Linked DNA regions of Homo sapiens: region 2 is reported to be linked to region 1. The links are microRNA targets in miRTarBase. Many come from high-throughput screens and were not tested one by one. Region 1 holds a microRNA gene; the other region holds the end of a gene's coding sequence.
The links. The annotated mature microRNA hsa-miR-7159-5p reads UUCAACAAGGGUGUAGGAUGG and lies in region 1 at 1,819-1,839, shown strand. An mRNA with a match to its seed (bases 2 to 7 or 8) in the 3' UTR can be bound and repressed. Matches are read on the target gene's strand: a 7mer-m8 pairs with bases 2 to 8, a 7mer-A1 pairs with bases 2 to 7 and ends in A, and an 8mer does both.

Region 1 (4,000 bases):
TGTAGGAGCACAGGCTTCCAGTGGCAGGGAAATCTCCAATTGGGTGTGTAGTAAAGACTTAAACCTGTTAAAATAAATTGATTAGCCAAAGATCTCTGCTCAGTGCTCTTTAAACTCTAACATCTGTTCCCAGTAAATAATTCACATAGCAGATATTAACTAGGAGGCTTAAAAGGAGGAGATGGCAGCTTAAAACATGCACTGAGATGCCTCTTTGCCTAAGAAATGCACACCCAAACCCACACCCAGGTGTTAAGGAAAAAGTGCTGATGGTGCTGCTTCCTCCCTCTGTCCCTTGTTCCAGGCTGCACACCTGGTCCTACCCCTGTCCCTAGTAGGCTGGCATCTTCACAGCTCCTTCCTCCCACCCCAGGACAAGGGCCCCTGGAACACTGGCCCGCAGCCACAATAAGGGTGTCCATGGATTCCTAGGACTACAAGTGGTGGAAGGCAGCCCCTTCTCCAACCCTCCCTGTCACACATACACCCTCCCCTGCAGCAGGCAGACAGCTCTTGTTTGCTGAGGCTCTGCTGGAGTCCTCCTTACCTGTCCCTCACCAAGGGACAGATGCACCTCCGATAATGGGCAGAAGTTGGGTGTCAGTGATGGGAAGATTCTAGACCACTCCCTAGGAGATAGCCCCTTCTCTTCCCTTAAGCATCTCCCTCCCGACTTGGTTTTCTGGATATTCCAAGAATATCCTTTTCCTTGCCTCCTTTGCTCAGCAGTTTCCTGCGGAGTTCCAGTGTCTTCAGCAGATCACCATTGCTTTCAACTTTGGAAGGAGCAGGCCTTCTGGGGACACCCAAGACATTCCTGGGCAGAGTAGGTGGCTAGCTTCTCCAGGTAGGGCAGCCCAGCTCCTGTCTGCATGGAGTTGGAGCTGCCACCACCAGGCCTGGTCAGGGGCCCAGGGTAAAGCTAGTTCATACTGTCTTTTCTGGGTGAATAGTTCGAGCTCACTGAGACTACCTGGGAATTGAGAAGATGCACAGGAAAAGTACTTTATACCCTCGGATGTCTACTCTCTATCAAACATTGCAAGAGTTTTGTAAGGACAGGGTGGCCTGGCTCCACACTCACTGGCAGGTGCTGCCCTCAAGGGGCTGCTCCTCCTTTCAGGTAGAAGAGGGTTTCTCAGGTTCTGCTGGTGAACCAAGGTCGCTGAGTACCATCTTCATTGGCACTGTAGCCCGTTTGACCCAAGGCTAGAATCCAGCCCGGGCGGGGACAATGCTTTCTGGCTGGCACCCAAAGCAACAGGTGGGAGAGCTCTGGTGGGAGTCATGTGTCTGCCCAGGTGAAAAGATTCCAGAAATTACCCACACATCATTTTCTCCGTGAATTACCTGAGCATTAATTCCTGAAAGCTTTGATCTCCAAAAGGGCCTGGCTTGATTCTTTCAGAATCTCTCAGTGCTATGTTATTGCAATAGCCATTTTCCTTCTGATCAGAGGTCATTGGAATAGAACAGAACTGTATGGAGTTCTCTTGGATTGAGAAGTGGAAGAGTCACTGTGCACTCTCTTATTCCACACTTTCAGAGCCAAAATCCAGAAAGAAGGGGCAGTAACCCTCATAGGTACTTCACTCCTGGGAAACCCCCTCTTCACTAGAGGTTGAGTCAGAGACCTAGTGAGTTCCTTGGACTCCCGCAGGCAGGGCTTAGTGGTTGGTGATCAGTGCGGATGGGCAGGAGGGTGGACTAAGCAGAGTCACAGTGGGCTTACTAATCTGTGCAGGGCTGCTGTGGCATGGGGGTAGAAGCTAGCTGGCTTCATTTTTGAAGAACTTTTAAGTCCATGAGACTCCGGCTTTCAACAAGGGTGTAGGATGGCCAGGGAAGTATGCCGGGCCTTGGCATTTCTATGTTAGTTGGAAGGATCAGGCTCGAGGCATCTAAACACAGACTTGGGCAGGTGCTGTGAAGAGAAGGACCATCTAACATTAGAAACTTCAGTGGAGGTGGTGAAGGATATGCAGTCTCCTTGGGGATAGAGGACAGAACTTCTTTCCTAGGGCGGAAAGGAGGGGGTCCCTTGGCTGGAGGGCAATGTGGCCTCTCTGGGCAGAGTGGGTTGTCCTTGGCTGGAAGGAAGGCTGAGGGGTAGCTGGGATGGGGCTCCAGACTCGGTCACATGTCCTGTCATTTAGAATGGCAGCTGTGGAAACCTCCATCTGACCAGTATTTGGAGAGACTTTAGATGGATGATGGGCTCAGTGGCCGATGGCCAAGTTAAGTGGCTCTCTTATCCACAGGGATCAGCATTTCTTAGCCTCTATTGAGAGGTGCCCTTACTCCAAGAGCAGAACACATGAAGTGAATGAGAAACTAGAACCCTTCCCCATGCATCCAGCAAGAAAGCATTGCCTGACACACATTCCCGGACATGGTGGGGGCATGCCTCTGGAAGCCAGAGGTGGGCTTAGCTAGGCAAGTGTGGATTGGTCAAAAGCCAAACTGTCCTGACCCTTGCCTGTCCCCCTTGCTGCGACCCAGAGGCTTACTTTCTCTCTCCAGTTACTGGTAGGAGGCATCTGAGTGTCCAGCTAAGGGTAAGCATGGCATCTGCAAAGGCAGAGTGTAGGGCTATAACCATGTAATCAGTGAGAGAGGGGGTAAAGGCCTCTGCATCCTGCTTCTTCTCCATCAGTGCATGCTGAACCCAAGGTCTCCTGGTCTCAGAGGGGCCAGTGCCGGGAGTGAGTGCTTTCCTGTTGTTATTTCTAGATTGGCTAGAAATGCAGGCAGGGCCAAGAGCACGTGTCTCATAAATACACGTTCCTCTCCCCCACCGCCTACCGTCCTACCCCGGGCTTCCCAGACCTCTTCTCAAGGCCTCTATGAAGTGCCTCACGGCCCTCTGGCCCAGGCCTGCTGTAGCAACATGGAGAGCTCTTCATCGTCTGCTTCATCTGATCAAACCCTGCCCTCTGTTCAGGTCTCAGTTCCAATGCCATTCCCTGGATAACACGTTTCCTTCAGGCAAGGCAGCTGCCAGGGACATGTCTGTGAGCCACTCCCTCATAGCACCCAGCACAATTTGAAACCCAACATTGATTTGTGTGATTATTTGATTAATGTCTCCCTCGCCTCCAAGACAGACCTCACCTAATTGAGCTGAACATCTTTCCCGGCCTCTGGCACTTAATAGGTACTCAATAAATATTTGTAGAATGCATGAATGCCAGGGTCGATGTGAGTTCTCTCCTTTTCCGCACACTCACCTGTGTAGCCCTCGTTCATTGGGCAGTTGGTTTGGATGACTTGGCTGCCCTGTACCACGAGGCGAGGTGGCCCAGGGAGAGAAGAGGGATGAGGCGCAGAGGGAGTGGGAGGCCCGTCTGACTGTCATGGGCATAAAGGTGACGGGGGAGGAAACCCAGAGAAACTTACAGAACAACAGTGAAGGGCTGGCAGAGGAAGATGGCCCAGTATCGGGGGAGGGGGAGTGAGAGGAGGTTCGAGAAGAAGACCAAAGGAGTAACGTAACGAGAAATGTCTGTGCCATTGCTGGGGGCTGGGGGCAGAGTTGGAAGGGGCGGGCAGGGCTGTTGCTGCAGATGCCACGAGGGAAACGTTATTGGGTGCTGGCCCAGGTGTGGGCAGAGGCACCCTCGAGGGCTGAGGTAAAGTGCACACCCAGCATAAAGAAAAGGGAACCGAGGGTTTTAAAGCTGGTGCAGCCTTTCTGGAGGGCCATCTAACAAAAAATATTTAAATAGAAATAAAAAGCAGAGCCATTTTTGAGACTCTCTCCAACAGAAATAATACAGAACGCCATGAGGATAAGCATAAAGGGATAGTTGTGGCAGCCTGGCAGTGTTTAAAAACACGGGGAACAACCTGAGTGCCTGCTAAATGGGGAGCCCTTACACTCATGGCACATCCACAGAATGGGGTGCAGTGCAGTCTCACAGAGTGTGGCTGGGCATGTACACTGATCTGATGTGGAACCATGTTGGTACATGGCTTGAAATGAAGCAAGCTGCAGAAT
Region 2 (4,000 bases), not on the chromosome of region 1:
CAATTCACAAACCTTTGCTGAAATACGCTTTTCTATGAAGTTCTTGTGCATGTGAAACTTAAAATATTAATCAAATTGTATGATTTTTTTTCCTGTTAATTTGTCTTGTGCCAGTTTAATTTGCAGCCCTGAGCCACTGAACCTAACAGGGTAGAGGGAAATTTTTTTCTTCACCTGCAAAAGAAAGGGTTAAGTGCTATCCCATGAAACTATATCGAGTCAACTCTATAGAGCTATTGGGCACTCTCTGCACCCATTGGGGTAATTGGTGTCACAAGGGTAATTCTGCTGGGCTAACATGTTTCAGGTGTAGACATTCCTGCATGGGCAAAGAAAAGAAAACCCAAATGAATCTGTGTCTGAACAAGCCCACGGATATGGCTCTAAACCACCTTTCTGCTAAAATCCAAAGCAGAAGGGGACAGATTCAGATTTATTCTAGTATCCCAGAAGTTTGCTCTGTGATAGGGACAGATCAAGCTCAGTACTGATTCTAACACTGCCTTAACTGCTCATCTGGCACACACAAGTGACCATGATGCAACACACAAAGTGCAATCAAGAAAGCTCCAAAGATGCTGCCATCTGCCCCACACGTAGGCTCCCAGGAGCACACCTGCAGCAGGTCAGCGAGGAAAGAGGACAGCGGGAGGGAGCGCAGGCCAGGGAACGTGTGCCCCAGGCCCTTCAGCTCGGGTTTTATTTGGGTTTTAAGCAGCAAGACAAGGGGAGAAAAGGCAGGCTGAGCCCTGGCATCTCAGATGGCAGAGATGGCTCCCAGTACCCCACCCAGAAATGCAGGGCAGCCCTGGAGGGGAGGTTAGAGAGGAAACGACTGTGTCCCCCTCATCCTGCCCAGTCTGGGGCTTTCCCAGGACTTAAGTACTGACCTGCTAACACAGTCCCTGCAGGGAGTCCATCTAGGATCGGCCACCTCTGAGGTTCTCCCACTTTCCTCTGATTCCAGCTCCTTGCTGGCCAGGGTATGGCCACATTTTCCTTGCCCCCACTCCACCACCTTCCACCTTCCACCTTCCTCTCTTAGCCTCTATCTATGAGAGGTACGCCCCTCACCCCCGAGAGCAGGGTCTCATTGGCGGCCATGGTCCCAGCCTCAAGGGGCCTGGTTGAAACAGGCTGTGTCATGAGCCCCCACAGCCACCCTGCGCGACACCCCCCTCACAGGCCCACAGCAGGCTGCATCCTGAGCTCCCCGCCCTAGACAGAGACAGATTACTCCCGGAGCAGTCCCCCAAACCTCCCACCCGCCCAGGCCTCCCCAGTCCCCGGCTCCCCGACGCCCCTGCACGCCACCCCCGCCCAGGAGCACCTTGAGGTCTTCGGCCGCGTCCTGCAGCGGCCGCACGCGGTGCGCCCAGTGCTCCCCAGAGCGCTCGCAGGCCGCACACAGGAGGCGCAGCTCGTCGCCACAGAAGGCGGCCAGTGGCTCGCGGTGCGCGGGGCACACGCCCTGCGGGACCGGCGACGGCGGGTGCAGGCGCCGCGCCATCTCGGCCATCTTAGCAAGCGGGCGGTTGGGCCGCAGGTTCCTCTGCGGGGACAGCTCGCGGCACTCGGGGCACGCGTACGGGCCCTCGGGCTGGCCCCAGCAGCGCCGGATGCACTCGCGGCAGAAGTTGTGGCCGCAGTCGGTCATCACCGGATCCGTGAAGTAGTCGAGGCAGATGGCGCAGGTGGCCTCCTCCTGGAGGTTGGTGGACAGGTCGGGGGCGGCCATGGCGCGGACAGAGGGGAGGAAGGCGGTACTGTCCGCGGGGCGGCGGCGGGCGGCCTCGGCAGCTCGCGGGGACGCGGGGTATCCGGGTGCGGCGGCGCAGGCTCGGGCACTCCGGGGCGCGAGGCTCGGGACTCCCGGGTGCTCGGGCTCCGGGGCGCGGGGACTCCAGGGCGCAGGACTCTGGGTTTCGGTAGCGCTGGGCGCGTAGGCTCCGAGCGCTCGGGGGACGCGGGACGTAGGGATCCCGGATGCCGGCAGGAAGAGGAGCCGAGGCGGAAGCAGGAAGCGACTGGGTGGGTTTTGTGTGTTTTTTTTTTTTTTTTTTTTTTTTTTTTTTTTTTTTTGGAACAACCCGCTTTTGCCTCCGATTGGCCGCTGCCAGTCACGCGGCCCGCGGGCGGGACGGAATTGGAGAGCTTTCACTTGCTGACCTGGCGTCACCACCGCTCCGGTTCTTGTGGCCAGGTCTTTTACCCCTGCCCTGGGGAGGACTCAGGCGCAGGGGAGGGATGGGGACAGGGGGCGGGGCGCAGGGGAGGGATGGGGACAGGGGGCGGGGCGCAGGGGAGGGATGGAGCAGGGGGCAGGGCAAGGAGGGATGGGGACTCAGGGCGGGGCACACGGAAGCAACTGCAAGGACTAAGGGAGTCCGCAGCCTGGGGCATTGGAGCCCTTCGCCATACCCCTAGTGCGTCCTCACCCCCTCAGCCCGTGCTTCCCAGGGCGGGTATCCTCGGAAGGCCCGGCCCTCACAGCCTTGGCAGGCCAAGGTCAGAATGATTGGAGTTGGGGGATGGGACGGGGGCATCCCTCCAGGACCAGCTCTCCAGGAGGCCCACATTCTTTCTGCGGGAACCACTCCAAAGGGGCATGCTGTTCCAGGCAGCCCCTCGCGCAGACACTCCGGCTTTGTCGAGGTAGGAGTACGCTTACTCTGGAATTCTGCCTTGCTAGTGACTGACACAGGCTGTTAAAGTGCTTGACCCTGCAGGGGTGGGTGGGGGGTTCCTTGGAAAAGGTAAGGGCGCTGTGGAAAAGAGGCCCCTACATAAATCCTAATCTCTTTGGGATTTTGCCCCTGCTCGTGCAACTTTGGGGATCGAACGGGATGGGGGTGGGCAGCTCTGAGGCTTTTTACGGGTTCAGCCTTTCCCATTTTCCCCCATCGAAGGACCCAATAGGATGCATAGGACATTTCTATGGGCAGCCTGGGACCATCCCTGACACAGCAACCACCCCCGCTCCTCCCCACCATAGGATATTTCTACTTCTTTGACAGAGTAACCTAAACCCCTGGGGGGGCTGGGAGCCACAGATTCCTGTCATTCCAAAGTGGGGGTGGGGGCATGGCTAAAAAAAACGTGACCACGCTGTTCCTGGTGTGTAGGTATGGATTTAGAAATCGGTCCACTCAGAACGCAGGGGCTTTCAAAAGTTTCCTCTAGGAAGCATCTGTCAGTATACCCTCTTAATGTTTGACAGTTCTAATCACAATTATATTTAGAATTTGAGAAACCCCCCTGTGTGTCTAATGGCTGCCAGCGTGATGCCAGAGAACCCTGGCAGGTGGCCTGCAGTAAGCAGAAGGCCCACACCTTCTGCAGAGCCAGGAGCAGTGCCCGAGTCCCCCGGTCTGTGTCTATCCTTTCACCCACATGGTCACTGTGGAGATGACCATCTGACCAGACTTCGGAGCCCCCAGGCAGAAGAAAGGCTGCAGGGGGCCTGGGAAGGTGGCCTGGGAGTAGGTGTGCAGGTGGGACCCATCGCTTACACTGTAGAAGGACACTTCCCCGGCTTCGAAGTCCAGGAAGATGCCCATGTGGCTGGGAGGCTCCATCAGCATGACCGGGGTTAGGGCAGAGAAGGTGGATAAGTACTTGGTCCCCTTGGACAGCTGCACCACCCAGAAGCCGTTTTCGGGGCACTTGGGGACCCTGTCTTTCCGGCTCACGTTGTCCCTGCACACACCCAGGGCCCACAACGCGTCCCCGGTGATGTTCATGCCCACCTCCCAGTAGTGCCTCCCAGAGGAGAAGGCCGTCTGGCCCACAGCACAGGGGTAAGCCACAAATCGGTCCTTGCTGCAGAACCCACTGCCCTCCGGCGAAGAGCCGAGGTAGCGCCTCTGGCGGCTCTCATACAGGAGGAGGTAGGGGTACGCGGAGGTGGCATCAGGCACCACATCCTCTGTAGATGGGCGTGGTGGTGGAGAGATGGGGAGAGGTGTGGGGCATTCAGGGTCAAAGGTGGGAGTCCCCG

Region 2: the mRNA of TRIM17 is a reported target of hsa-miR-7159-5p. The part of its 3' UTR that is shown has no 7-base or 8-base seed match.

What each region holds. Positions count from the first base shown.
Region 1 is chr6:33,897,317-33,901,316 of GRCh38, forward strand. MIR7159 (microRNA 7159) reads left to right here and starts at 1,819; the gene lies at 1,819-1,884. All of the region lies in intron 1 of LOC105375026 (a long non-coding RNA gene), which reads left to right.
Region 2 is chr1:228,404,824-228,408,823 of GRCh38, forward strand. TRIM17 (tripartite motif containing 17) reads right to left here. Exons shown (of 7, transcript NM_016102.4): 7 at 3,112-3,928. The coding sequence ends at 3,378. TRIM11 (tripartite motif containing 11) reads right to left here and starts at 2,012. Exons shown (of 6, transcript NM_145214.3): 1 at 1,331-2,012. The coding sequence starts at 1,738. RefSeq lists silencers at 1,724-1,963, 2,024-2,113, 2,254-2,323 and enhancers at 2,674-2,723, 2,915-3,574.